Homo sapiens: one gene and its partners. The protein of the gene in region 1 binds, or shares a complex with, the protein of each later gene. Each region holds a gene or a part of one and is shown in the gene's direction. Other genes may lie near its edges. The genes, in order: POLD3, REV1 and POLD2.

Region 1 (9,157 bases):
TTTGGCTCCAAATCCAGAGATAGAATCTCTTATTACCACAGAGGCACCATAATCCCTTTTAGAACAGGTACATCTCAAACTTTAATTTACATGTGAATCATGCCCAAGTGGTACTGATGCTGTTTGTCTATGGCATACACTTTGTGTAGCAGAGTGTAAGTCAGAACACCTAGGTTCTTGTTTAGGTCATAGACTATAAAAATAAGCACTGAGATCTTGGCTAAAAGTTATGTCGTCCCTGGTGAAGAGTTTCTTATCTATGGAATATCTATTTTGCCTAAATGTGCAGTTATGAAGATTCAGGTGGCATAAATATATCCAAAAACAAGATGGAAACCACAGTATGGGCTTAAGATGTTATCATAGACATTGAGAAGCTTTTTTTTTTCTAGAATATTTGTTTTTATAAATTTGAACAGTGGAAAAGAAGCTACAGATGATTAGACTGTAATCAAGAGTCATCTTTGGTATTTGGTTCCATTTGTTCTTCAGAAGGGTATGACTCATCGAGATTGCTTCCTTTATGTTTCCTATTTGTAAGCCATGTTAGGTAAAAGCATGTGCTTGTTATGAAGGCCTAGGGAGGAATTAGAGTTCAGGCTTTGAGTCATTGGCTAGTTCTTCAGCCATGTTTTAGCTTCTTCTACCCTTTCCATAATCACACTAGACTTCTGTGGAGCTTTTAAGATTTAGCACTTGAGGTTTGATGGGATGCTCAGATCCTGGTACTGTATTTTTGTGTTTGAAAAGAGTTGTGGGTTTAGGCTCTTACCTTTGTTAGTTGGATAGCCCATGGTTGTCATTTTGCCTTTTGTGGCACCTGCTACAGCTTGGATCTTCAGAGAAGATTATTTTCCCTGTTACTGATTTTTTTTTTTCCTAGTTCAGACTTGTTTTGAAAAGATTGGCTCTGAAGAATCAACCTTTCCAGGTTCTTAAAACTAGTGAAGACATTTTGTCATCTGTGCTCCCTGTCCCACTATTCCCCACCTCCCAGTCCTCTGAAAAGGCCTCTGCCATTTTAATTGTAACATGTGATTGGGGAGTAAAATTCTTTACGTGTGGAAATTCTGTCTTTTCAGTGCCAAATTTCTTGTGAACCTGTGAATTCTGGACTTTGAATGGGTTTTTTTTTTTCTTTTTCTTCCTTTTTTTTTTTTTTTTGGCTTTCAGTCTTTTAATAGTTGCCATTTTCAAGCCTCTTGGTTTGGCCATGGGTGATAATATATGTGTTTACTGTTGAATTTCTTAATTCAACAGTGCATTTTTTAAATTTAAGAGGACAAAAACATTGGTGCCAGTTTTTTCCTCCTCTTTCTGCCCCAAAAGAAAAAAGTCAAACGTCTTTGTGAGAGTGAGAGTTCATTGGGAATTTGTGGGTAATTATTTATTGCTTTGTTTAAAATATAGTACTCGAGTTTTGGCCAGGTGTGTGATGTGGACTTTTTTGCACTCCTGTCTCCAGACAGGACTGTTAAGAGCCTTGGATGCAGCAGTGAAAACTGTGCTCACATTGCACTTTTTTTTTTTTTTTTAAAGGTTTTTGGTCCAAGCTCAACCTAATGAATCTTGGCTTTGGTTACCAACAAAGGAGTTCTGCTTTCCTCTCTCTGCTCAGACTGTTCCAAATGTACCAGCATAGGGGGCTTGCCCTGTCCTGTGCTGGATCAGATTTGTTCTATGGGTTTAGAAAGCTCATCTTTCTCTCTTTGTGACTTTGCAGCAGAAATTGGGTAGTTGGGCCCCTGAGATAAGTTTGGAGTAGACTTCTGGACAAGGGAATGGGTTTCTAAGAGCAAAGCAGTTAAGTGGAAAAGAAATCTGATGTTACCCACGAAAACCAGGTTTGTTTGCCTTTTTTTAATGGCAACCCAGAAAAGTGGCATGTTGTTCAGCTAAAATAAAGGCCCTATATTTTTAATGGAGACCTCCTTTTTTCTGGGGTTTGCGGTAGCTACAGCTTTGAATATAGAAATATTCCTTTTAGTTCTTACAGTATACTGAATATGCTGCTAAAGAAATTTTGTTGGTGCTGCCCTGACTGTTTTTTAACTCCCCTGAGCAATGTCTCACACAAAATTGGCAATGAGACAGCCATTGATTTCATTAATAAGTAATGAAATAATGAGCTAATTGATGCTGAAGTATAATGTAGACATGCTGCCATTTGAGTACAGAATATAGCTTATGAAGGAGCAAAGTCTTATACCACCAACTAGTAGAAAGTAATTTCCTTTCTGTATCTGTAGATGGCTCTTCAGACTTTTCTAATTTAAGATATTGAATAAATAACAGCTCGTAATTTTGTCCCATTAATTCAGTTACATAATGCTTTTGAAGATGCATGTGAGATGGAGGTGGTGTTCTGGGGTCTAATTGCTGAACGAATAGGTATGCCATGGGAATTCTCTAATTATCTTAGAGCAACATTTCTCAAACTTTGCCGGCTATGTGCATTACTTGAAGATCTTGCTAAAATTGAAATTCTGCATCAGTAGGCCAGGAGTGGGAACTGAGAGTGCATTCCTAATAAGCTCATGGGAGATTCTGTTGCCTCTGGTGTGCGGAGCACAATTTGAGTAGTAAGGCCTTTCAGAATACTTAATATATATCTAAAATTTATCAGTATTTTTTAGCCTCTAAGTGAACATCAAAGTGAATTCTGGGCTCTTACAAAATTAAAGACAAACTCTGGGAACTCTCTGGGAAGGGATTGTTGATTATGCAGCCTTAATGGGATTAGCTGGATAAGAGGGACGGAATGCTCCAGTGGCAATTGCACTTCAACATTTAAAACAGGGAAGGAGAGAACATTAATTCCCAGAGTGTGGTCCCCAGACCAGCAGCATCAGCATTATCTGGGAGCATGTTAGAGAAGCAAATTCTCAGGTCCCACCCCAGATCTGCTGAGTCTGAAACTTGAGAAACAGAATCTGGCAATCTATGTTTTAACAAGCCCTCCAGGTGGTTCTGATGCACAGTAAAGTTTGAGATGATATCTTAAGTAGCAGAGTAGGTATTGGGACACACATACATTTGATTCCAAAGCTTATGCCTCTAGAACAATTTGATATATTTTATTAGAAAGAATTATCAATAAAAGCTCAAGACTGTCATTGTTCTTTAATGGAAAAAAAAACCTTTTACTTTAATCATTTGAGCATTTATTATGCATATTAGGTTACGCTTTTCAGCTAAGAACAAGCTCTTTTCCTTCAATGTTTCTCTATCGCTTGCTGCAACCAGGAAGGCTGAGAAAGAATTTAGATAGCATTGGTTATACAGCTGCCACAGCTCTCTAAAATTACAGAAAGGTGGCATGCTGTTTCTTGTGGTTGGTATATGTGTTGCAGTAGTGTAGATCCTCCTCGGTTATGTGACGTCATGGCTGGAAGCCACTATCTGTGCCTGTGTCCTTTGGGGCTTGCTCATAATGACTGCTTACTGTTACAGTTCTTTTCCAAGTTTCCCTTGGGAAGGGTTCAGTGAGTTTTAATAGCAGGGGAAAAGCAATTTATGCCTTCGGCTGATAGGGAGTAAGAAAACTGGTAACTTTGTTTCTCAATTTATCACTGTCATTCCTTTAACACGTGTGTCATCCGATAGCATTTGCTTGAGATAGTTAACCTTCATGATACAGACTACTACTAAATTTTGGGTTAATTTGCAGCCATTAAGAACTAAGAACCGAACAGTTGAGTAACTAATCTTCAATTCTCTGTACCTAGGATGTGCAGAGAGTGGGTGGCATCAGGTTAGAGCTAGACAGGAGGGTCCATGGTGACCTTGGTTAAACAGAATGGAGGCAGGCAAATAGGCCAGCAGTTTAAGACCAGTAACGGGAATAGGCAGGCATTGTAGGTCAGAGAGGTGATACTTAAGAAGCCAGTCAAAGCATGGAGTTAGAAGTAAGTGTTTAAGATATAGACAATTCGGATATAGAGTTCAGGAAGTTAGCCAGCATAGGCCAGGACCCAAATAAAGGATTTAGGCAATTCACTGATAAAGGGCCATTTAAAGGCATGGGATATAGCTGTGAGGGAGAAAAGTGAACGTTAATTCTAAGCATCAAATAGAGACTGTGTGAGCTCAGGATCCCACATAGTTCCTACCTTAGGCTAGATCTGATCTCCCAGTGGGAGAAAGATTGAGTCCTAAGTAAGCATATTTGCCTTGATCAGAGTCTGAAATGATTGGGGTTAGCAAGACATCCCATTTTCTTCATAGAGTAAATGATTCAGCCCACCCATGTTCCATTTTTTTCTCATCCTACCAGTGACTGAAAAAGTCTACGAGAGTGAATCCTGCACAGATAGTGAAGAGGAGCTTAACATGAAGACATCCTCAGTACACAGACCCCCTGCCATGACTGTGAAAAAAGAACCCAGAGAGGAACGAAAGGGCCCCAAGAAAGGGACTGCTGCTCTGGGCAAAGCCAACAGACAGGTGTCCATTACTGGCTTCTTCCAGAGGAAATAAACTGCCATCTCTGGTAGATCAGAGACTTGGAGTGGTCAAGGGAGAAGACCAAGAAATGTACTCCTCACTTACTATGTAAGTTCATCTAGATCTCCACCTCACCTGTATCAAAAGACTGTTCTTTCATCCTGTGAGGTTTATACTATTTCTGGTTTTTAACCAAAAGGAAATCATCTGGAAGCAGGAGGCAAAAAGCTGTTACCTTCTAATGACATTTAAAAAGCACAGTCTTTGACCTGTCCAGGAGAAGGATTTACTCCAAAATTATACTGGAACAGTTTTCAGAATTCTCACTGAAGCCATTTAGTGGCTAACCCACTGTGCTCCACTCACCCTATGCCCTGGTCCGCATATGGCACAGGAATTATTCCTTCTTGTTCCTCTGTATTCTAAGAATTCATGTGGGTGTTTCTTATCCTTACATTCTGCTGGATACGTTTACCCCTCTTGTCTTCCTGCAGTACCACACTTCTGTCCCCTAACCTCCTGAGGCTGTTCTCTGTAAGTCTTTTAAGTTTTGGTTGGACTAAAGGCTGAAGTGAAAATCTCCCTGTAATCCTCTTCCTCCATTATGCAGTACACGGACACCTGGCTACAGACCAGGACGTGGCTTGTGTTCTGTTCCTTTCACAAAAGCTCTCTGGGACCTTCACTTGCAATTAGTGGTTAGGGAAAAGCCTCAGGCAGAACACAAATAGAAATTTAATGATGTGTTCAACTCCACCAGAAATTACCTCGAGTCAGCATTGACGATATTGGAGGAGCTGCCGTGCTGCTGATACGGGGTGTGCTTTATGCTGCTCTTTGCGGTTTGTTGATCCCCTCCTCCCCCACTCTCAATACCTAGAGAGTGAAACCCGTACAATGAGATAAAGACTAAAAAGAGAAATCCCTTCCTATATACAGTGTGCTACATTTACAAAAAATTTCTCCTTAAGAAAACAGAATATTCAAAAACAGCACTTTTCCAGGAAGTTAGTGAGGAAGATAAGGCACACATTTATTTATAAATGGATGTTGCTCCTTTGTATTTTTAGCTTCCCTATTTGCTTAAAAGTACAGGCTCCCTAAGAGAGGATGGAGAGGGAGAGACTGAATTGTTAGTAGGTCTAAACATCAAAGAAAACATTTTTATTAGTTACTTATGGAAAATCATCTATTACAATGATAACCTTCAAGTGACTTCCATTATGGCTGGACAGGCGGTGAGCTCAGTGGATTGCAGTGGTGTGCTGGTGATTTTGCACAGTGAGCTCTGCGGAAGGGGTCAGGCTCAACTGCTGATGTGTCTCACACGTAGCAGACAAGGGGTGTCTGACTGGCTTCTTTTGCCTCAAGATGGTGTATGTCGTAAGTGATGCAATCAGCTGTCTGCTTTTTAAGGTTGGGATTGTGCTGACTTTGGGATTAACATGAGCTTCTTTAGCAACCAAGCATGAACTTGATTAAGACCAGAAGTTTGGGAGATGAGTCCTGGCATTATGTCTAGGACTAAAGCAGTGGCTTTGTATAGCAAGCTGAGTAAAGGTTGACATATTCCAAAACCCTTCTTTTTAAAAGGAAAAAGGATGGAGAGAAGGATGGAAAGCCTGGACTTAAACCTTTAGAAAAAACTTCTGGAGAGAAATCCCTTTTAAACAGTTACTTTTGTCATTGCCTCTGGTCATTTGTCTAAATAGGAATGGAAAATTAAAAGAAAAGCAACAATCCAATCTTTTTTCTAAAAATTATGCTGGGGTCTCGACTAAAACTGAATTTGAATTGGAAAATTCTGGTGTTGGTTGGAGTTCCATCTTGCAAGGGATAATACAAATCCTATGATCTCTATGCCCAATATGCTGCCTCAACTCTGAGCTGTCTGCAAGGCTTAGTAAGTATTGAGTGGTGTTTTTTTTTTCTTTTTATACAATACCATGTTAACCACATGAGTTAAATAAATTTGAGAAGTTGTTTTAAAACAGTGCTTCAAACTGAGTATCTGATGAGTCTCTTATTTGATGGATGGTAACAGTGTTGCAATTATTTAAGCTCTGAATGGGAAGAAGGCTGGTTTTCAGTTGATATTGTTAAAACTGCATACCCACAGTCTGAGATGAACAAGTTATTTGCTGCCTTCATCGTTTTTTTCAGCACTGGGGAAATGTTAGTTTCAGCCAACCTCATTTTTTAGTTCATCTAGAAGAAAATCTAGCACATTGTATTAGTTTGGCTTCATCACTTGCTAGCTGTATGACTGTGGGCAAGTTTCACAGCCTCAAGTTCTTTATCAAAATAAAACTAAAATGAGTTACCAAGGGTGTCAAGACTAAAGTCAAGTGTATGTAGCATGAATTCGGTCCATGTTGGCGGTCACATACGCGCTCTACAAAATGGTGGCTTTCTTTCTGATGTCATAAGTGATGTAATCAGCTAGCAGCTTCCTGAAATGTTATCAGTTATACGACCCAGGTGGTATATTCTTCAGTCATTCTGGCTGTACATGTAGTAAAAAGGGGAAGATAGTTGTCCTATTTCATGAAAGGTTTAAAGAGAGTAGATATTTTCCTACTGAAGGAATTATAGATGCCTATATTTACTGTTCATTTATTGTGTATCTACTATGTGTCAAGCCCATGACCTGGGGACTAGAGGATATAATAGAAACCATAGAATTTGGCACTTGATCCTCACAATTTAGTGGAAGGGAAAGCCAGTAAAATGAAATGACAGTGCCATATGTGAGTGCAATGTACAGGGTCCTCCAAGAGTTCCCAGGAGGATGGGTATCAAGGCAGTCTTCCTGGAGCAAGCAGTTCTTTGAATGATGAGCAGGATTTCACCCAGCAAAGAGGAATGGAAATGACTTTCCAGGCAGAGGAGCATGGCTTTTGGGAGAGGTGGGCTGTAGAACTTGAGAATAGGGAGGAAAATGTATTCAGAAATGAAGTTGGGGCCTTGCTAAGCAGTTTGGATTTGATTTGTAGATAATGGGAGCCAACTGAAGAAATTTAAGAAGAGTAACAGAAGTTGGTTCTCAGTTAAGAGTGACAGCCAGTATTTACTTTGATTTTGTATCCATGATAGTATTTCTACCCTTGCATATGCACATTGTATCTTAAAATTCTAGCGGGATTAAAGAAAACCATCTTGGTTAAAACAAGGCCGCTTAATTCTGGCAGTCAGCATAGACAATTGCAGTGTTTCCCTTGTCTTCCCCCGTCAACATAGATTTCTGTAGCAGAATCAATTTTTTAAAGTGATTTCAAAAGCTGGTATTTCTTCTTTGACACTCTCAGTGATGAGCCTCCACTCACCTCCCTGGAAAAAACTGGGAATTCAGGGGCAGAGGGGGCTGGTAAACGAGTGAAACAGTTCTCTATTCCTTTTCTATCTTTGTTTCTTTAAGAAGACATTAGTTATTATACAGGAGAGGGCTGAAGAGAAGGGCCATATAAGGAAACTAAATAGTTTCTCCAGGACATGAGTAGAATGAGTGCCTAATAATGTATTTGCCAGAAACGTACTCTGTGTCAAGACTCGTTTTGGTAAACTTGTCTCCTTTCATTGGTTCCAGGATCTCAGTATGCTGTAATGCAGCTTTTACCACCATGAAACATTTTGGGGCTGCCTCGTTTTGTTGTGAGAAGGCAGTATTGCTTTCTGAGTTATTGCCCTGGCAGCTCTGTAAATTAGCCCATGCTGTCACCATGCCCTCTCTGAAGGGCACATTGTACCCAAATGACTGCATTTAGGATTGACTCTTACCACTCCCTGCTGCATGACACTTTTCTCCACTTGTATCTGTGTCCAGTTTTTTGTGTTCTTAGGTGCGGACCACCCACAGATTACCACCCAGGCTCTTTAGCCAGAGAAACTTGGTAAGGCTTCTGATCCAATATTTTTCCATTGGATCAGAATCCACCTTAACTCTACAATTCCCCTTCTACTTCAAACCCTTAATGTTTTCTGAACACCCATTCCCCTTAACTGTTCTCATTTTCTCTTTCCAGACTCCATGTTTCTTGAGGTTTCACCTTGGCTCCCTGTACCTACTTTCTTAATATTCAGAGTTCTTCATGGCTGGTTCTTCAGCTTCATTCTTTTGGTGTTTTAGGCTTTCTCAAGGCTCTTCATGGCATGTCTTTTACCGGACTGCTCTTGAAGAATGGAAAAACTACTTTGTTTAGTGTCTGTTTGGGATCAGTCAGATCCAAAGCATAAAGCAGTTATTGGAAGCTAGTTATGTTTAGTCCTGGATAAAATACTTTGGGGATTGTAAGAGCCCGTAAGTTACCATTTTGGAGTGACAAGACAAACATACTAAATAGCATTTAGCATTTGACACAATGCTTAGATGAGTGATAGACATGGGACTTAATAATTTAGGAATGAATTAGGATAATCATTATGGGCAAAATATTATATTCCTATGCAAAGAACAATAAAAGATTTAAAGAAAGAAACAGGCTGAGGTAGGCTAACCATTTTATTGGGTGTTATTCAGCTATTTGAACTTCACTTGCCACTTGTACATTCACGGTGTAAGTAAACCATGATTTAGTGAATCTTTAATTAATGGAGTTATTTCTGTTGTGCTTTAAGCATGAGAGTATTGACGAGAAAGCAAGCAGTTATCAGGAATTACTTCAAAAGGCAGTTTATACAATATAAAGTCTGTATAGGCTCCACTCAGTTTTGT
Region 2 (10,755 bases), on another chromosome or scaffold:
AATTAATTTCAAATGCTGAGTCAGAGGCGGAAGTTGTCCAATTTAAGAGTCAGCAAGAGGTAGGAAAGTGGCCCATCAGAGTCACATCTAGGAACAATAGCTGATATCCAGGAGGCTGAGACTCTGCTTGGCTGCTTTTTAAGAAGAAATTATAGTTTATCCCAGTTAGTATGGGAGGTTCTTTGAAGAATGCCAACTAATAAATGCAGAAGGAATTATGGAATTAGGAAAACATCCTTTGCAACCCACTAGATATAGTTTGGATGTATGTCCCCTCCAAAACTCATGTTGAAATTTGATCCCTAATGCTGGAGATGGGGCCTAGTGGGAAGTGTTTGGGTCATGCAGGCAGATCCTTAAGAACAGTTTGGTGGCTTAGTGCCATCCTGAAAGTGATGAATGAGTTCTTGCTCTATTAGTTTTTGAGAGAGCTGATTTTTGAAAAGAGCCTGGGACTTCGCTCTCCCTTGCTTCCTCTCTTGGAATGACATGCTGGTTCCCCTTTGCCTTCTGCCATGACTGGAAGCAGCCTGAGTGAGGTTCTCACCAAAAGCAGATACCAGAGCCATGCTTCTTGTACAGCCTGCAGACCTGTAAGCCAAATAAACTTCTTTTCTTTTCTTTTTGAGACAGAGTTTCGCTTTTATTGCCCAGGCTGGAGTGCAATGGCAGGATCTTGGCTCACTACAACCTCCGCCTCCCAGATTCAAGCGATTCTCCTGCCTCAGCCTCCCTAGTAGCTGGGATTACAGGCGCCTGCCACCATGCCCAGCTAATTTTTGTATTTATAGTAGAGATGGGGTTTCACCATATTGGCCAGGCTGGTCTCAAACTCCTGACCCCAAGTGATCCACACGCCTCGGCCTCCCAAAATGCTGGGATTACAGGCGTGAGCCACCGTGCCCAGCCTTCCTCTTTTCTTTATAAATTAACCAGACTCAGGTATTCCTTTACAGCAATCAAAATAGACTGAGACATCAATAAAATGGTTTATTCAGGCCAGAATCATTAATAGATGCTGAAACCATATGGTGAAAGATTGCTGAAGAGGATATCCACTTGGTAAAAAAAATTACCACTCTAGAGCCACCGCACCTGGCCTGGCCCTACCTATTTAATAAGCAAAACTGTTAGATATAGCTTTTGGCAAAACTCTTAGGGATGCTGGGAAAAAATTACTGAGGTACTAAGGATGCCATGAACAGAGAATGTTTGGGAACCTCTGTCCTAAGACCACTACTATATTAGAATGGAATATACTGAATGATGTTCATCCTTCTGACCTGGAGCCATCAAGATCGTATTCTGGCTCACTGCCCCTTGCTCCAACACGACTCCAGTCTTTATTCTTGATGATTTCGATATACACAGAGATGATCTTTCTCTCACTCTGGCCCCTCATATCCTTGAACTTCTCTCTTCCATGACTTTGTCCTCCCTTGTATCTCAGCCACTAACTCCCTCTGCAATCTTGTCATTGCCACATGTAATGTAATGTTAATACCTGACTCCAAAGAGCCTTTCAAACAACCTCCATGCCTGCCCTTCAGCCCCCGCCCATTGATATCATCTTTCAGCAACCTCCACCTACCCTTGGCATGTGCTCTCTCCCCTTCAGCTTAAGTTCCACAATCAATCATTATGATTTCCCACTTGCCTACACCCTCAACTTCCTTGCCTTCTTCTTGTTTCATTATATTGCTTTACAGACCCCCTACCCTGGTGAAATCTAGCCCCCTAATTTCTCTAGGCTGCACCTGTACACATGGACTATTGCAAGACCCCGTGACCACCTCTCAAACCCATTCTCCATGCATCAGCCAGAGAGACTTTCAAAACTCACTTTATTGCCTAAAACCTTTCAAGGGTTCATTGCACCCTCAGAATACAGTCAAAATGCAGTAAGATACTTTATGGGGCCTGATATGGTTTGACTCTGTGTCCCCACCCAAATCTCATCTCAAATTTTAATCCTCATGTCGAGGGAGGGACCTGTAATCCCCTCGCCACCATGTCAAAGGACGGAGGTGATTGGAACATGGAGGCGGTTTCCCCCATGCTGTTCTTGTGATAATGAGTGAGTTCTCACTAGATCTGATGGTTTTATAAGGGGGTCTTCCTCCTTTGCTTTCTCTTCTCTCTCCCACCACCTTGTGAAGAAGGTGCCTGCTTCCCCTTCTGCCATGATTGTAAGTATCTTGAGGCCCCCCCCAGCTATGTGGAACTGTGAGTCAATTAAACCTCAGTCCTTTATAAATTACTGAGACTCAGGGAAGTTCTTTACAGCAGCGTGAGAACAGACTAACACCAGGCCCTTCATGCGCTGGACCCTACTTGCCTCCCCAACCTCCCTTTTCAACATGGACCCTTCCCCACAGCCCACACCACTCTGCACTTTGCACTCTGCAGTTTCTAAAATGTTCCCTGTTCTCTCTCCTTTCTCTGCCTTTGCACATCTCGCTCCCTCTGGAAATGGCATTTCCTAACCAACTGGACTAGTCTCTCAGAACTTACTGAGATGTCACATTTTTAGGAAGCCTCCCTGACACCTGTCCTGTGTGCTTCATAGATTGCCCTCAAGTAACAGCCCTGAGCCTGTACTGCAGGTACCTGTTTGTTTGCCTCCTTCACTACACTGGGAGCTTTTTGGGGGCAGGCAATGTATTTTGTCCACTGTTGACCCTACAGGGTCTGGCACAGGGACAGGCATATAGAATGTACATGATAACTGATTGTTGCATCATCCTAAAATCTGTGAACAGTGTTGCTTAAATACAGATATATACACCTGTCCATGTATGTTTGAAAGAGTTCAGTCATATTGTCAAACATGATGGTATGTTTGAAAGAGTTCAGTCTTGGTGAACCAATTCCACTGCCAATTTCCTAAGTTTCTGTGGGTGTGAGATCATTCTGCCTTATTATTTCATCTTTCAGCATAATGCACTGAATCCTTATTACAATCAGCACACTCTTTCCTATGGAGTAAATCACATGTTATTGTGTCTACATCAGCCAAGGGACTTGAGTACAAACCTCTGTTTTTAGTAGTTTCATGCTGTTTGTTTTTGGTATTTGAGAGACTAGATGTAAATGTTTCCAAGGAAAGTTTACTGCCAGATACAGAGGTGAAAGGACAGAAGTCATGTCCTTATCCATGGCTGTCCCTCCAAAGGTCAGTGGTTGGCACTTTCATAGGCCTTTTGAGATAGCAGTAATGAAATGAATTTTAATGAGGTTCAGAAAACGGAAATAAGGTACAGTGCCCCAAAGCACTCCCCCAAGTGTAGGGGTCCAGCGCGGCCATCTCTAGACCCCCAGAGTGGCCCAAAGGTCAGCCTGACTCCCCTTACATGAGAAAGATAATCCTATGAGAATAAATATAAATAGATAAGTGGGTGAATAAATGTAGGTGCATGAAATTGAAACAAGAGGACTTCATTATGTGATGGCATAAAACATAATATTCTGGAATGGACAAAAATAAAACTTTGGACTGGGTGAGGTGGCTCATGCCTGTAATCTTAGTGCTTTGGAACACCTAGGTGGGAGGTTCGCTTGGGACCAGGAGTTTGAGGTTACACTGAGCTATGATCTTGCCACTGCACTCCAGCCTGGACAACAGAGCAAGACCCTGTCACAAGGATGCTAGAATTTGTCCATAAATACATTTTTATTTATGTATTCCCCATCTCTCTTTTTATCCTATTTTATGTAGACAGCAACGTGATTTTTTTTCGTCCTTTACAGAGGCTGCCTACTAGTTTGCAGTTAATACCATTTTACTGTATTCTATAAAGGTATTGCCAAGGTCAGTTGGCTCAAGGTTTGTGTTTCTTCCTTGAGAAAAATACAAAAAGAAGAAAAAAAAAGATCTTCGGTTTGAATACGAGAGTGGAAAAGAAAATTGAAATACAATCGTGCAGGAATGCTGCCATTTAGACATTTAAAACAAGCAAAAGAACAACAACCAAAACAAAACTCACCCATAACAAGGGGTTACCACTGTTTTTCTGTAGCATCTCAGCAGATGACCTCCTGGTGTTGCAGTCGGCAACTGGTCGTGAGTCTGTTAAAATTATGGGCAGGCACGGTGGCTCACGCCTATAATCCTAGCACTTTAGGATGCCAAGGCTGGTGGATTACCTGAGGTCAGGACTTCCAGACCAGCCTGGCCAACATGGTGAAACCCCCTCTCTACTAAAAATACAAAAATTAGCCGGGCATGGTGGCGCATGCCTGTAATCCCAGCTACTCGGGAGGCTGAGGTGGGAGAATCACTTGAACCTGGGAGGCGGAGGTTGCAGTGAGCCGAGATCGCGCCATTGCACTCCAGCCTGGGCAAAAGAGCAAAACTTCGTCTCAAAAGAAAAGAAAAGAAAAGAAAGCAATTACGCAATTTGTTTTAAATTATGACGTCTTTGAAAAGTATGCAATCTAAATTCGTTGGATTAGCGACGAGAATACTGAAGTTGAAGTGCATTTATAGAAGTCTATAAAATGGCAAAAAACTGAAAGGGAAAGAAATGAGCTATTTGAGTATTCTCTGTGTTGCTAGTAAACAAGTTCCAACTCTGCAAATCAGTTTTCAAAAGAATACTGATTGTTTCCTAAGTACCTGCAAACTCTGAAGCATTTTAGGCAAGGGAATGAGTGGGAAAAAAGTATCTTCATGTTTGTGCATTACAACAATAAAGACTATTATGTAACAATGTGGAGTCTTCAAAGCGACCCTGCCAAGAGGGAGAAAGTGGTCCTTATGGACGGATTGTTTTCTGCTAGAAGGCCCTCAATTAGAATTGTACTTACGCATACATAATATAGGATATTATTTTTATATTCATAGAAAACTGCTTTCTCGGGTAACTCCAGCGCTGTACATGGGATGGGATACCGGCCCTCCGTTTACAAATACTCAGGCGCAATGCTGCCCGGGCACTCAAAGGACAGAAGATAGTGTCTGTGCCCTGCGGGAGCAGGCCACGAATCCCGAAAACGCCGTGGCGCAGTGCTCCTTCCCGCGAACCTGAGTGGGCCGTGGTTCTCGGTTGCTCTGGACATAGGAAAATGTCAGTTCATGTGTGTCCCTTTCTCCACTAGATGTCACTGTAAATCAATTGCTTAAGGAGGGAACCCGGGCGTCTGGCGCATCTTCACACAGTACCGGGGTTTGAAGCCCGGTCAGTGTCTGCACTTGTGTCCTTCCCCACTGGGGAGCCCCAAGGCGGGGCAGGCGCGGGGACTCGCTGTGCACGGAGCGGCGCGCTGTCCGAATGGCAACCGAAGAGCCGCGACCCGGTCAACGAAGCGCGGGGGTGACCGGAGCAGGACGGGCGGGCAGGCGGCGCAGTGCGTGGGCGGGCCCGCGCTGCGCTCCCCTCCGCCCAGCTAGCGAGACGGTCACGTGCCGCCCAGGCGCTGCCCCTTGCGGGCGGCTGCAGAACAACAGGGCGGGGCCGGGGAGGGGAGGAACACGGAGGCCGACGCCGGGCGCCGCGGTGCTACGCCCGAGGCTGGGGTCGCCCCGGGCCGGGGGGAGCAGAGCGCGTGCGCCGCGCGGCTGTGAGCGCGAGCGGGGCCGGGGAGCGCGCGCGGAACGCTAGGGGGCGTGGCTGCGGCGCGCGCGCTAACCGGAGGGGGAGGGGCGGAGAGCCACCGCGGAGCGCGCGCGGGGTTGGTTGCCGCGAGCGTGGGGGAGCGTGGACCGCGGCGCTGCTCAGCGGTGGGGCTGCCTTCCCCCGGCCCTCCTCCCTGGTCCCTGGCGAGGGCACTGGCGGCGGCGGGGCCGGGGTCCGCAAGGCCGGAGAAGGCCGCCGGGCCCGGGCATGGTGGTCTGGGGCAACGCGGAAGGTGAGCGACCCCCGGGCCGGCGGCGGGGTGGGGGAGGGGCGGGATCGGACACGCGTCGCCCGGAGGCGCCGCAGACCCGCCCGGCAGCGGCCAGAGCGCGGTCGGCCTGAGGTGGCGCGGGGGAGGGGTGCGTCGCCCCGGCCCCGGCCCGCGGCCGTCCTGTCGCGGCCTGGGCTGTCCACGGCGCCTTCCCCTGACGCTCGCAGCCGCCGGGTTATGTAATGTGTGACCTCCCCTCCCCTTCCCTTCCGTCATGGCGCGGCCGGCCCCGCGCCGCCGCCAGCCCCATGGGCCGCCCCGCGCCGACCCCTGGCGCAGCGGCCCTTCCCTCCGCGCCCGGCCGCATCCCGCCGGCCCGGTCAGACCGCGCCGCAAACTCCTTCCTCCTGCGCCGGCGCCTCGGCCGGCCATTCAGTTCCGCGCCATTCATTCACGCGCGCGTTCGGGCGTTCGTTCCACAAGCGTTTGTAGAATGTCGACCCGGTCGAGCCGCCGCTCCCACCCGCACTCCAGCCACAGCGTTTTTCCGCACCCCGCCTTCGACGTCCCCGGTGCATCCCAGAACCGGTCGGAATGTCCGAAGGCGGTTGTTGCTCCCTTGTTTTTCCTTGCTGCTTGTCCGTTCGCTAAATACGCTGGGCGCCGTTCCCCAACTGTCCTTCCGAGAGCCCCTTGCCCACTTCTGTACTGTTACAGTGACGCCGCTCTGGGCGCACCGAGCCGCGCTGTGTTTCGCTGCTCTTCCTACCTATTCTCAGTTTGTAAAGAAATAATCTCACATAACACTCCTTAATGTACTCCTCCGTAAGATAAATTGCAGATAATATACGTCTGCTAATTCTCTTTATCTCCACGTCTTCTCACGCCATGTACTAAGTAGAAATGGTTTCATTTAGGTGAAAATAATGCAGACTAGCACATAGCACAACAAGGGCTTGTAACTATTAAGGACTTTATGTAACAGTCTGTAATTCTGTGTATCTGTCTGGTCTTTCCGGACTTGGCACTTTAGTCTCCGAGAATAAGCCATTTCCTGTTTAGGTAGGGTAGGACCAACCATAACCTTGGTTCTTTCTATGGAGTTCTGTATGTAGCAAATCAGCCTGTGGGAACCATCTATCTGTCCACCAACCTTTCACACATATTCTTGGGTTTGCCCGTGCAGGGACCAGTGCTGCGTATTGTTCCCTGCCTTCCTGTACTGGACACTTAAGAGCTCACCTAAAGTTCCTCTTCCAGGAATCATTCTCCAGTATACAAGGCTCTCTTCCATTCAATTCTTAGGCTATTTGCGCCTTTTCCTGTGTTGCGTTTATCTTTTTAGCCCTGTCTTCTCTTACTGTGTAGGACCTTTTGAGGGTAGAGTCTGTACCAAACTCCTATCTTTTGTTGTAGAACCTTAACCGCTATTTTACGGTAAACCGTACATATTTAATTTTTTTTGTAAAGATGGGAATTGCTCTTTTAAAATTAATTTCTATGAGGTCTCAAGTAGAACATAATTTTTAAAAAATAATGTGCTTGAATATATAAGATCACTACATTTCCAACTTCCCACTCGCAACTTCAAAACTCTGATTCTACATAAGAGCATTAAGGAAACGTTGTCCTCACCAGCAACAAACTGGTCATTATTCATAAGAAGTTGCAGTGACTACATATAATATATATTTGAAAGCACTTTCTTTGATAGCTGCTGTAGTGGAAAGACAGGAAGTTCACAGTTACATGGAGGTTAGATTTCTGGCCCTACAAATTGTTAGCTGGTGACTGGACAAGTTAAGTTACTAGTATCTCTGATTTTTTCTCGTTTGTAGAATGAAGATACCATTTCCCACCTTGGGTAGCTGAGGATTAAATCAGTTCTTAAACGTGAGACATCTAGTGACACCATGGTACTCAGGAGGTGCTCAGTAAATACATATTCCCTTTGGTATACCTGTTTATTGCAGTTCACAATCTAGAATGAGCCAGGATGTGCTAGAGACAAAGCGTGAGAGGAAAGGTAATCAGAAGAGGTGACAGGTACCTCTCGTCTCCAAATAAATGAACAAGTCCTACACTAAAGAGCATTGTGGGTCTTTCTGCTTTTCAAGAATGTATGGGTGTGTATATGTGGCGTATTACTAATCATAGAGTATATTAAACAGAACATTTAAAAATGAAAAGTTTTTTTTTACTATAATAGCACCAACTGAAGCGTTAACATGGACATTAAAAAATAATCTTATTTTTTTCCAAAGGCAAGTCAGGAGACGAGACGGGAAAAGGGATATTAAAAAGGCTCTTTAGAGGCAATTAGGTTGCAGGCTCTTCTGTTAGCATCTACTTATAAACAGTACATGAATCCTAGTCTAAGTTCCATTATCTCTTGGTTGGAGTGTTTCCATAGTGCCTTTACTGGTTTATTTCTCTTGCTCCCTGACTGTTCCCTAGGGATTCACCTTGACAACCAGAGGGATCTTTTTAAAAATGTAAATCAGATTGTCACTTTCTTGCTTAGTGTCCTCTAAAAGCATCCTGTGAACCACTTACATTTGAATCTTAGTCGCCATCAGGGCATAGCATGATTTGGCAGCTGCCAGCTTCTAACGTTACCTCTTACTAGGTGACTGACTTTCAGCAACCTACCCCAGTCCCATAGTCATTTTGCCGGTTCTTGAACAAAGTGTTTCTTCCTTAGGATGTTATACTTACTATTCTTTTAGCTGGACCACCCCTTCCTCTAAGTGGTCAAGGCTCTTCATGTCTTGTCTTGTGTTTCTGCTCAAATGTCATCGCCTCAGGCCTTTTCTAATTCTAAAATAGGAACCAGCCCCTTCCTTTATAATCTTTTATTCTTTATTCTCTTTTTCTCCATAGCATTTATTACTAGGTGAAGATACACTGTTTTTTTTTTCCCACTTATTTATTTCCCCCCTTAGACTTGTTTGCTGCCAGCCCTGTTCTCAACAAGCGAGCAGAGGTCTTGTCTGACTTGTACACAGCTTTATCCCCAGTGCTTAGAACTGTGCCTGGTACATAGTAGGCTGTCAGTAAAACTTGTTGAGTAAATGAATAGTATAGTTGATTTAAATATTGGCTCTGGAATCAGACAGCTAGGGTCAGAATTCTCTGGCTCCCACCATTTACTGATTGAGACTGTGGGCAAGTTAATAACTTGGTGGTGCCTCAGTTCTGCTCATCTGTAGGATGACTGTAATAATACCTACCTCACAGGATTATGGTGAGTAATAATTGAGTTAATGTATGTAAAGTGCTTAGAACAGGGTAATTTTTTTTTTTTTTGAGATGGAGTCTCGCTCTGTCGCCCACACTGGAGTGCAGTGGCACCATCTTGGCTCACTGCAAGCTCCACCTCCTGGGTTCACGCCATTCTCCTGCCTCAGCCTCCCGAGTAGCTGGGACTGCAGGCACCTGCCACCACGCCCGGCTAATTTTTTGTATTTTTAGTAGAGACGGGGTTTCACCGTGTTATCCAGGATGGTGTCGGTCTCCTGACCTCGTGATCCGCCCGCCTCAGCCTCCCAAAGTGCTGGGATTACAGGCGTGAGCCACTGGTCCCAGCCCAGAACAGGGAAATTTTAAACCTTCTAGGAACTATTTGAAATTAGCTTGTTCACTTAGGATTTTGTATTTTGGCATGAGATAAAGGTGGGTTAATTGAATTTTTTTCTTTTTTAACATTTTTTGAGACAGGGTCTTGCTCTGTTGCCCAAGCTGGAATGCAGTGGTGTGATCACGGCTCACTGCAGCCTCAACCTCCTGGGCTCAAGCCAGCCTCCCGCCTCAGGCGCTCGAGTAGCCTGCACTACAGGCATGTGCCACCATGCCTGGCTAGTCTTTTAATGTTTTGTAAAGATGGGGTCCTACTGTTTTGCCCAGGCTGGTCTCAAACTCTTGGGCTACAGTCTCCTGCCTCATCCTCCTGCCTCATCCTCCCAAAATGGTGGGATTACAAGTGTGAGCCACTGTGTCTGGCTAAATTTTATATTTATTACTTTGGTGCTGAATTTTTGTTAGCCACCAAAATTGTATTTATGGAACGCCTTTAAAAAATACATTTTGTGGATGTCTAGAGCAAATTAAAAAATAAACTGTTGAGAATGGTGACTGGTGTTTGGTCTTAATGTGTAAGTCAGGTTTTTTATTTTTCAATCTGTAGAAGATGCTAAGAGTGATTATCTCAACAACCGCCCACCAGAGTGGCTTTTATAGAGTTCCCTTTGAAGTTCAGCTGGAGATCTGATTGTGGTGATGAAAGGACTTGCTGGAGGCTTCGTGTCTTCAGACAGGAAAGTCCTTGAAGATCCAGTTGAAATATGAGTCTTGTAGTATTTGGGAAGGAAATTTTTATCATCTTTAGTTGTGTTCAGTTTCTCCCTTCTTTCACTGGGTTTTTCCCCTCAGATTATATTTGGTTATTAATTGGAACTTAAAGTAACCCAGCTGTGCTCTGTATCTTTCTGTTCTTTTCATAATGATTTATTTTTCTTTAGCAGATACAGAAATAAGAGAAGAAAGAATTGATGGAGACAGTGACTTTGTAATAATAGATATTTTCAGCTAATACAACTTGAATTATTCTCATAAACTAAGATTCTGCCTGTGGTAATTGAACTTGCATAATACCAGTTATTTTAAATTCACTTGTCCTTAGTAAAATGCTTCTTTGTAGGATTGTTATTTCATTTCTCAGTCTGAACTTTAACAAGTAATAGGATCCTAAACCCTAGGTGTAAATTTTTTTTTAAAAGTCAAAGGGCTGCTGCTTTGTGTAACATTTCTTCCAAAATTTAATAATTGTGAGTTATTATTTACTGTGTGCTAGGCTCTTTCCTAGGTGCAGTGTCTTAATTAATATCTACAGCTACCGTATAAGGTTGGCACCATTATAAAGAAACA
Region 3 (10,066 bases), on another chromosome or scaffold:
CTTTATAGATGCTGTGGGGCCGAGGAGTTTGCCAACTACAGCAGGTCATGCCCAGAGGTTTCTCTCTGGGTAGCAAGGTGTGTCTCCCACCAAAGGCCATTGGCATGGGGCCCGCCCTGCTGACCCGAGGCAGTGCACAGCAGAGGCCAGATGCAGTGAGAAGGAGCCTCTCCTTGGCCTGCTGTCTGCTGCCATGCCTGTGGGGGCGTGGACACAAGTGTGTGGCATAGAAGGTGGTGTGGCAGGTGAGAGGTTGGGGGTGTGTATGTAGCAGGTGTCTGTGTGTGTATGTGCATGTGGGGGTGTGTGTGCATGCATGTGTGTGTGTGCATATGCACGTGTGTGCATATGCATGTGTGTGCATGGAGAGAGAAGACCTCCTCTTTCTGGCCCCTCTCCTAGCTGCCCCCCTCCCTCCTGCTGCCAACACACTGTCAACCCTTCACTGTCTTTTTCCTTGGGACTCGTTGATCTGTCTCTACCATCCCAGGTGTCTGGAGCAGCCTCTAACCTTCCATCTGCCAAGGTACTTCAGCCCCACCCCTCCCAGCTGTGGAATGTCCCCTAGGATGTGCCACTGACACAAAGAGCCACACAGCTCCAAAATAGAATATTATCTAACCCACTGCTCCCTTTGCTGTCAGCAACACCTCCACCATGCTTCTCCCAGGACCCCCCTTGAACTCTCTGCTTCCTCCCTGAGGCCAAAGGAAAGACAGGAAAGGGGCCACCTTCCTGTCCTTGGGTCCCACAGAGATGTATCCTTGTAATGAAACCTACTTTATGCTTGAGTTGTATCCAGTTAGTTTCTGTGGCTTGCAATCAAGACCCACACCCACCTCAACCCAGGCTCTAGAGAGTAGACCCTTGTTTTTGCCTGGCTTGGGTCGACCTGGCACCTGCCAGGGTCCCAGCCTCTGAGTCAGCCCACCTTGCCCTCATCGGTGCCACCTCCAGGCGGCTGTACATAGACTCTGGCTTCTGCCCTGGCCTGGCCTCTGGGAACTGCAGCTGTCTGCTTCCATCCTATGTGGATGGTGCCTGAAAGTGAATAGGGATCAGTTACCAGCCCAGTATCTGTCCCCTTCTCAATAGCACTGATTCCTATGGGGAACTGCTTTTCTTGGACTATGTATGGGTTTGGTGGGAGGGTAGTTCCTGTAACCAACCCTACAGGGTGTAGGAACCTAGACTCTCAGCAACATAACAGGCAGCAGGCTCCCAAGCTAAGTCTGGCCAGCTGGGCCACCTCTCCCAGATTCTGTTTCATGAGAGCATCATCCAAGAGCAGTGGGAACACTGGGGACGGTCCAGCCTAGGACTGGTATGCAGATCAGAGAATCCCAGATAGAAGGTGATTGCTGTTCTTCCAGTTTCTTGGCCCTCCAGAGCAACCATACTTCCCATCTGCCCCAAAACCTGATCCTCCAAACTCCCACCATTTCTGTGCATCCCCAATATCTAATAGATCAACTGCCTTTCATTTACATTTGTCACAACCAAATGATACACCTGCCCTTCACCCACTACTGAACTGCAGCTGGGTTAGTCCAAATTCAGGGCCCACGTGTCATTTCAAGCCTGTCTTGAATAATGTACACCTTCCTGCAATGTGAGGATGGCCACCACCTTGGTCTTATACCCACGGGTGTCCTGAGCTACATTTCTCATAATCAAAAATAAACTCAACACATCACTCCAGCCTGAGCAACAGAGCAAGACACTAGCTCTAAAAATAAAAAATAAAAACAAACAAATGAAAAACCCAGCAAACTTGGGGAAAGAGGAAGCACCTGATTTCCAGAGTTTCCACATCATGAGATGCAAATGTCCAGTTTTCAACAACAACAACAACAACAAAAAAAAAATCACAAGGCATACAAAGAAATAGGAGACTAAGACCCACTCAAAGGAAAAGAATAAATAAGCAGAAGCCATACCAGAGGAAAACCAGATGGCTGACTTACTAGACAAATACTTTAAAACAACTGTCTTAAAGATGCTTGAAGAGCTAAAGGAAAATGTGAACAAAGTCAAGAAAGTGATGGAACAAATGGAAATTCCAATAAAGTGATAGAAAACTTTTTGGAGTTTTTTTTCTTGGTAGCAAAAAATTATGAAGCTGAAGAATACAATAAATTCCCTAGAGGGCTTCAAAGGCAGATGTAAGCAAACTTGGCCAGGTGCAGTGGCTCATGCTCATAATCCAGCACTTTGGAAGGCTGAGGCAGGAGGATTGCTTGAGCCCAGGAGTTTGAAACCAGCCTGGGCAACATAGAAAAACCCTATCTTTAAAAAAACTTATATAAAATTTAAAAATTATAAAATTTATTTAAAAAATCAGCAATTTGAAGACTGGACAGGGAAATTATCAAATTTGAGGAACAGAAAGGAAAAAGATGGAAGAAAAATAAACAGAGCCTAAGAGACCTGCGGGACACCATCAAGCAGACTAATACCCATTGTGGAAATTCCAGAAAGAAAAGAGAGTGAAGGACCAGAGAGATTATTAGGAGAAATAATGGCTGAAAATGTCTCAAATTTGATGAATGACATGAATATGAACATTCAAAAATCTCGACAAACTCCAAGTAGGAAAAACTCAAAGATACTCATACTGAGATTCATCATAATCAAACTGCTGAAAGCCAAAGACAAGGAGACAATATCAAAAGCTGCAAGAGAGAAGTGACTCATCACATACAAGGGATCTTCAAAAAGATTATCAGATATCTTGGCTGGGCACGGTGGCTCACACCTGTAATCTTAGCACTTTGGGAGGCCGAGGCAGGTGGATCACTTGAGGTCAGGAGTTTGAGACCAGCCTGGCCAACATGGCAAAAACCCATCTCCATTAAAAATACAAAGATTGGTGAGGCATGGTGGTGCATGCCTGTAATCCCAGCTACTCGGGAGGCTGAAGCAGGAGAATCACTTGAACCTGGGAGGCGGAGGGTGCACCAAGCCAAGATCGTGCCACCACTGCACTCCAGCCTGGGTGACAGAGTGTGACCTTGTTTCAAAAAAAAAAGAAAAAGAAAAAGAAAAAAAAGATCATCAGCTATCTCATCAGAAACCTCAGAGGCCAAAAGGCAGTAGATTGATATATTCAAAGTGCTAAAAGAAAAAAATAAATCTGTCAGCTGAGAATCCTGTATCTGTATCTCACTTAACCATTATTTTAAAATAAGGGAAAATGAAGACATTCCCAGATAAACACAAGCTGAGGGAGTTCATTATCACTAGATCTGCCCTGCAAAGAAAGCCAAAGAAAGCCTTTCAGGATGAAATGAAAGGATACTAGACAGTGACTCAAAGCTGAATAAAGAGGCCAGGCATAGTGGCTCACACCTGTAATCTCAGCACTTTGGGAGGCTGAGATGGGCGGATCACCTGAGGAGTTGGAGACCAGCCTGGCTAATATGGTGGAACCCCATCTCTACGAAAAATACAAAAATTAGCCAGGTGTGGTGGCACATGCCTGTAATCCCAGCTACTTGGGAGGCTGAGGCAAGAGAATCACCTGAACCCAGGAGGCGGAGGTTGCAGTGAGCCGAGATTGTGCCACCGCACTCCAGCCTGGGTGACAGAGTGATACCCTGTCTCAAAAAAAAAAGCCGAATAAACGAATAAAGATCTCATCTATGGCCGTACCACCCTGAATGTGTCCAATCTCAGAAGCTAAGCAGAGTTGGGCCTGGTTAGTACTTGGAGGGGAGAAATAACGGTCTATGCTAAAGGAAAATTCAGGTGCAATTAAAGTAAAATTAATTATATAAAAGAGAATACATTAAAAGCTAGTATTATTGTAACTTTGGTTTGTAATTCCACCAAGTGGAATTTGTTCCTGAAATGCTAGAATGGTTCAACATAAAAATCAATAAATGTAATAGACCACATTAACAGAAAAAAAACCCACACGGTCATCTCAATTGATGTCAAAAAAGTATTTGACAAAATTCAACACTCTTTTGAAAGAAGAAAAAGCTCAACAAACTAAGAATAGGAGGAAACTACCTCAAATAATAAAATCCATAGGCCAAATCCCCAAACTCACAGCTAGCAACATATTTAATGCTAAAGACTGAAAGCTTCCCCTTTAAGATCCGGAATAAGACAAAGATGCCCACTTTCACCACTTCTACTCAACATAGTATGGGAAGTTCTAGCCAGAGTAATCAGGTAAGAAAAAAGAAATAAAAAGCATCTGAATTGGAAAGGAAAAAGTAAAATTATTTGTTTGCCCAATACATGTACAATGTTTCAGGTGAAGGCTCAGAACAGTACAACCTTACCAGCAAGAGTCCTGCTGTCTCTGTGTGAATCCCAGCTATTACTCACTAGCTACATGATCTCTCTTGCCCTCCCTGCCTCAATTTCCTCATGTGTAAAGTGGGAGAAAAATAATAGTTCATGCTTCAAAGGTTTTTTGTTTGTTTGCTTGCTTTGAGACAGCGTCTGGCTCTGTCGCTCAGGCTGAAGTGCAGTGGTGCAATCTTAGGTCACTGCAACCTCAGCCTCCTGGGCTTAAGCGATCCTCCCACCTCGGCCTCCCAAAGTGTTGGGATACAGGCGTGAACCACTGTGTCTGACCCAAAGGATTATTTGAGGAGCAGATGAATTAATGTGTCATAACCTCAAAGCAGTTGCAAAGGCGTTTAATAATTAAAATATCACATTTTAAATTAAAATATAAGGCTGGGCGTGGTGGCTCATGCCTGTAATCCCAGCACTTTGGGAGGCTGAGGTGGGAGGATCACTTGAGCCCAGGAGTTCCACACTAGCCTGGGCACCATTGGGAGACCCTGTCTCTACACACACACGCACACACACACACACACACACAAACTTAAAGTAGCCAGGCGTGGTGCTGCGCGCCTGTTGTCCCAGCTACTCGGGAGGCTGAGGCGGGAGAATCACTGGAGCCTGGGAGTTCGAGGCTGCAGTGAGCCGAGATCGCACCACTGCACTCCAGCCTGGGCCACAGAGCAAGACGCTGCCTCAAACAAACAAACAAAAACAAAAATTAAAATATTAAGTAATAATTAACGAGTGTTAATATCCACTCGTTGTGGAGACAAGACCTGGACTTAGGAAACAGGCCCAGGGAAGTAGCAGAACAGTAGCGCTAGAGGACGCCTGGGAGAATCAGCGCGCGGCGGGAAGAGCCCGGGAAGCTTAGTGGGGAAGCGTCTCTTGATGGGGTGAGGAATTCTATAAATTAGTGGAGATGGAAAAAAAAAAAAAAAAGTATTCCCAAAGTGGGAGACAGCACTCAGAAAGACGTGGTGGTAAGAACGAGTATGAGTAACGGGGACAACGAGGACACTGGAGATTGGGGAGTGTTGGGCTGGAAGCTGGTGTGCAGCTGTGGGCAAGCTAGGGAGGACCCCGAAACCGCCAATGCGTTTCCCGGACGCAGACGCTGGCAGGACGGGAGGAACCCCGAGACCCCGCGCCATCCCTTCAGGAAGAGTTACTTCTCCCCGGCCAAGTTAGTGGGCCTTGGGCCTTCTTTCTGTTGGGATCCTCCTCGCGTGTCGCCATCGCTACAAGTGGGCAGCTCTGCGGGGAAAGCTGGGACGCTGGGGGCTTCACCAAGGAGGCTGGCGGCCGACCACTGGGAGGTCTGGCGGGGTGACGACCACTGGGAGGTTTGGGCAGGGCCTGACGGGGTGACGCGGTCAGCCCACTGGAGGCCGACACCCCCCGTCAGCCCAACCCCTGCACGCGCGGCCGCCAACCAAAGACCCGCGGCGCCGGCCTGCGAGCCCCCGCCCCGCGTTGCCCAGGAAACCGAGGGTGTGGCTCCGCGTTCTCTGGGCGTCCCAGGGACTGGGCGCACAGTGGTCGGCGGGATGAGGCGCCTGGTGACGGACGGGGCGAGGAGGGCAGCGATTGGTGAGATTAGGCGATGGGCGGGGAAGCCGCGCGGGGATTAGCGAGTTGCGGCGATGGGCGGGGCAGGCGCGCGGGGATTGGCGGGATGCGGCGCGCCGCGCGGTGAGTGGGGTCCAGGGAAACGGGGTCAGCTGGGGGTGGCAGTTCCAGGCCGCGAGGCCGGGCTCCTGGGTCGGTGGGCTGGTGTCTTGGCGGACGTCCCGCAGCTGCCGCGTGGATCCGAGCCGGGGCACCCGCCGTGACTGGGACAGCCCCCAGGGCGCTCTCGGCCCCATCCCGAGTAGCGCGGCCTGGCTGCTGCCGCCATCAAGCACGTTCGAGCCAAAAGCTCCTAACGAGTCACTCGTTAGACACGTGTGCGGAGCCTGTGTCCCAGGCCAGTGCTGTCCCGTGGAGATAGATTGCAAGCCGCTAGGGAATTTTTTAACTTTCTAGTAGGTGTACGAAAAAAGTAAAACGAAACAAATCAATTGGAGTAAATCCATAAATATATTCAAACTATTATTTCAATTGTATGTGAAAAAATTATTGGGATATTCTTTGTACTATTCTTAGAAATCCATTGTGTGTCCAACCCAAACATCACAGTTGGACTCACCACATCTCCTGTACTTCGTAGCCCTAGGTGGCTAGTGGCATAAGACACAAAAATCTCAGCTCTCCTGGAGCTTATGGTCTAGTTGGAGCAGGCAGACAATACATTTAAAATATACAGTTTGTTAGAAGGTAAATGTTGTAAACAACAATAACAGTTGAAGTACTGGGGAGAGTTGCAGTTGTAAATCAGATGGGCAGGGCACAAGGTAACATTTGAGTAAAGATGTAAGAACTTGAAGGAGATGGGCAAGTGAGCTCTATAAGTATACGGGAGAGGGGCAAGCAAGAGTTCAGAGGCCCCTTGCTGTGGGGAGGGATCCAAGGTGGAGGAGTGGGAACCAGGAGGGGAGAGGACCAGTGGAGCAGATCTCATAGGCAGTTGTAAGGACTTGGGGCCTTATTCAATGAAATGAGGACACTTTGGAGAGTTTTGAACAGAGCAGTGACTGATTTATGTTTTGGTTTTGGTTTAGTTCTATTATTATTTAATAATAGGCTTATTATTTCACAGAAGTTTTATTTAATAAGGCAGACCTCTTGTCTGGAAATGAGACAGGTGCCGGAGAGCTGGATGGAGGCAGATCGGGAATTCCATTTGGGGCAAACTGAACTTGATTGAGACCCTGGTAGTTGTCCAGATGGAACAGGACACCTGAGTCTAGGGTTCGGGAAGAACTCCAGATGGGACAAACACTCCTAGCTTTCCTTTTCTCTTTTTGGATGACCGCTACAGGGTGAGACATCGGTATCCAGGCACGATAAATTTCCAAGTGGACACAATGTCTGGTGTCAACTACAGCTGTTCTCCTTCTTTTCCCAGTATCCTTTGGGTGCAGTGAGACACCAGGAGAGCTGCTGCTTTGGGGGATGGACAGGGGCAGCAGGAATGCCTTTGTGTTTTCGCAGTGAACCTCCTTGGCCTGGGCGAAGCTGTGTGGACCAAGCAAGTCAGGAGTGTGGCCATGTTTTCTGAGCAGGCTGCCCAGAGGGCCCACACTCTACTGTCCCCACCATCAGCCAACAATGCCACCTTTGCCCGGGTGCCAGTGGCAACCTACACCAACTCCTCACAACCCTTCCGGCTAGGAGAGCGCAGCTTTAGCCGGCAGTATGCCCACATTTATGCCACCCGCCTCATCCAAATGAGACCCTTCCTGGAGAACCGGGCCCAGCAGCACTGGGGTAAGTGAGAGTTTGGGAAGGTGCTTCCCCCACAGCATCCCTGAACTTAGAAGTGTTCTGCAAGAGAATGGGAACAGTTTATCTAATTGATCCCACTTCCTGTTACCTTGGGAAAATTAACCTCTTTTTCCCTCAGTTTCTTCTTAAGATAGTAACAAGGATTAAATTAAGTAATTTGTGGGTTTGGAGTTAGTTTTAGTTCAGAGGCTGGTTGGAGATGAGGACTTAGTTCTGGCGGTGATGGCGATTACTTCACTGGCAGAGGAAAATGGTTTTCCTATCTTCAGTGCAGATTATTCAGGTATTTGCCTGTGCTGTAGCCAGAGAGCCCCTCAGTGTGGCAAGCCTGGCGCCAGGCACCAGGAGCCAAGACTGGTGAGGATGCACTCTCTGGTCTCGAGGGGACCCCCTCTGTTCACTCATGTCTGTTTGCCTCTCCTCCTGGCCCCCATATTTGCTGGCCATGAATTTTCCTGTCCCTTGGGCCCTCTGTCTTTCCTAATAAAGTGGCCTGCCCAACACAACCCTTGTTCTTTGCCCCCATTTCTTCCCTGGTGATCTCTCCTGCAGTTGGATTACTCTTGGTGGTGAAGCAGGGACCCCCATCTCCCCCTTTGAGTTTATTTGAGTTTTAGGTGCTGCTGCATTCCCCCATTCCTACCACTTACATAAGAGTGGCTTTCCAGGTAATTTTCAAATCCATCTCCTATTATATTTTTAAACTGAGGATTTAGTAGGTGAGACCAGGTCTTACTCATTTTTACTGTCCTTGGCACCAGGCAAAATGGATCTCAGCCCTAGTTGCACATTGGAATCCCCTGGGGAGCTTTGAGAAGCCCATCTCATCCCATGCCAAGCCAAGATCAATTCTCGTTATAGGCAGGCAGGAGAACCCTGGGCCTAGAAATCTAGCTAGAACCTCAAATTCATTAGGGATATGTATTAGTCCATTTTCACATTGCTATAAAAAACTACCTGAGATAGGGTAATTTATAAAGAAAAGAGGTTTAATTGACTCACAGTTCCTCATGGCTGGGGAGGCCTCAGGAAACTTAACAATCATGGCAGAAGGTGAAGGGAAAGCAAGGCTCTTTTACATGATAGCAGGAGAGAGAGAGCAAGGGGAACTGCCAACCATTTTTAAACCATCAGATCGCATGATGGCTTGATCTCACTCACCATCACAAGAACAGCATGGGGGAAATCCACCCCCACAATCCAGTCACCTCCCACCAGGTCCCTCCGTCAACACCGTGTGGATTATAATTCCAGATGAGATGTGGGTGGGGACACAGAGCCAAATCATATCAGGATGTTTTCTGTTTTGTTTACCTGAGACAAAGTGCTGTTCACCTCTCCTCTCCCACATAATCAGGGGCTCCCTCCTGCGGCTCCGGTAGCTTTTCCTCACTTTCCTTTCAGCCCTCGGGACACCTTCCTTGGCTCCTTTCAGAGCTCAGTTACTACTTGGGCCCAATGTCAATGCCACCTTCTAGATTCTTTCCGGCAGCACCTCCTCTGGTCGCACATTTCTCTTCCAGTTATTGGAGCTGTCAAAAAAGCTCCCCAGTGATGGACGATAGCGATTTCACTGTGCTCACAGACTGGTCAGGAAACCAAACAGCTGCCACAGTGAATGTGTTGATAGCAGCGGGGCAGCAGTAGCACTCGCTCACAGGCCTGGTGGTTGGTGCTGGCCCCCACCCTGAATACCTACATGTGGCTTCTCCATGTGGCCTGTGCATCCTCACTGAAGCTCAGCCTGTCTCTCCAAATTGGTCTTTCCACTCACCTGTTCCCCAAACCTGCCCAGACCTTCCTGCTGTAGGCTTTTCCCTTCACTTGGCACACTCTTTCCCTTGTCTTCCCATGGCCCCATCTAAGCCCCACTGTCAGCTGAAGTGTTATATTCTTTGAGGGGCCACCTGAAGCCACCTTGCAATGAGGGCCTCCGTTTTCTACCTCAGCTCACCATTTGTTCACAGCACTTGTCACTGTGGCGAGTTACTTGTCTATGGCCTGTTGTCGTTCTCCTGCCTAGACCCAGTGGGCTGAGTGGGGGCAAGTGTTGGCTTTTATGTCCAGTTTTGATCTTGGTGCCAGCACATTGCCTGGGTGGAAGCATGTCCTACTATCGGTTACAGGGATGTCATTCTGCCCAGTGCTCAGGGGCATACACTTGGATCCCAGTTGTGTGCCCTTGGACACATTGCTTAACCTCTCTGTGCATCAGTTGGGTGATAATATCTACTCCTGGCACATTTTCAGCGTTGGCTGAGTTACATGTACAGTGCTTAGGCCACCTGGGGGAGAGTAAGAGTGGGATACGTGAGGATGTGGAGTCTGTTGCATTTCTGTCTGCTGCTGGCATCCTTCTTGTCTTGTT

What was found.
Region 2: the proteins of POLD3 (region 1) and REV1 are in contact, whole or in part, in an NMR structure (PDB 2N1G), measured with the Homo sapiens proteins. Residues at the interface, in NP_006582.1 of Homo sapiens: Gly232, Asn233, Met234, Met235, Ser236, Asn237, Phe238, Phe239, Gly240, Ala242, Ala243, Met244; in NP_057400.1 of Homo sapiens: Asn1158, Leu1159, Ala1160, Gly1161, Leu1171, Leu1172, Glu1174, Trp1175, Ile1179, Met1183, Glu1184, Glu1185, Asp1186, Gln1189, Val1190.
Region 3: POLD3 (region 1) and POLD2 share a complex: the UniProt entries of both Homo sapiens proteins name them as parts of the both the DNA polymerase delta and DNA polymerase zeta complex.

The regions. Positions count from the first base shown.
Region 1 is NC_000011.10:74,636,288-74,645,444, forward strand, and holds the end of POLD3 (DNA polymerase delta subunit 3), read left to right. Parts: intron 1-4,276; coding exon 4,277-4,479; 3' UTR 4,480-6,789; downstream 6,790-9,157. UniProt on the Homo sapiens protein: Accessory component of both the DNA polymerase delta complex and the DNA polymerase zeta complex.
Region 2 is NC_000002.12:99,484,912-99,495,666, reverse strand, and holds the start of REV1 (DNA repair protein REV1), read left to right. Parts: upstream 1-5,649; 5' UTR 5,650-5,850; intron 5,851-6,255; exon of another isoform or gene 6,256-10,755. UniProt on the Homo sapiens protein: Deoxycytidyl transferase involved in DNA repair. Transfers a dCMP residue from dCTP to the 3'-end of a DNA primer in a template-dependent reaction.
Region 3 is NC_000007.14:44,119,448-44,129,513, reverse strand, and holds the start of POLD2 (DNA polymerase delta subunit 2), read left to right. Parts: upstream 1-5,965; 5' UTR 5,966-6,003; exon of another isoform or gene 6,004-6,334; coding exon of another isoform or gene 6,335-6,335; exon of another isoform or gene 6,336-6,627; intron 6,628-7,054; exon of another isoform or gene 7,055-7,404; coding exon of another isoform or gene 7,405-7,460; coding exon 7,461-7,680; intron 7,681-10,066. UniProt on the Homo sapiens protein: Accessory component of both the DNA polymerase delta complex and the DNA polymerase zeta complex.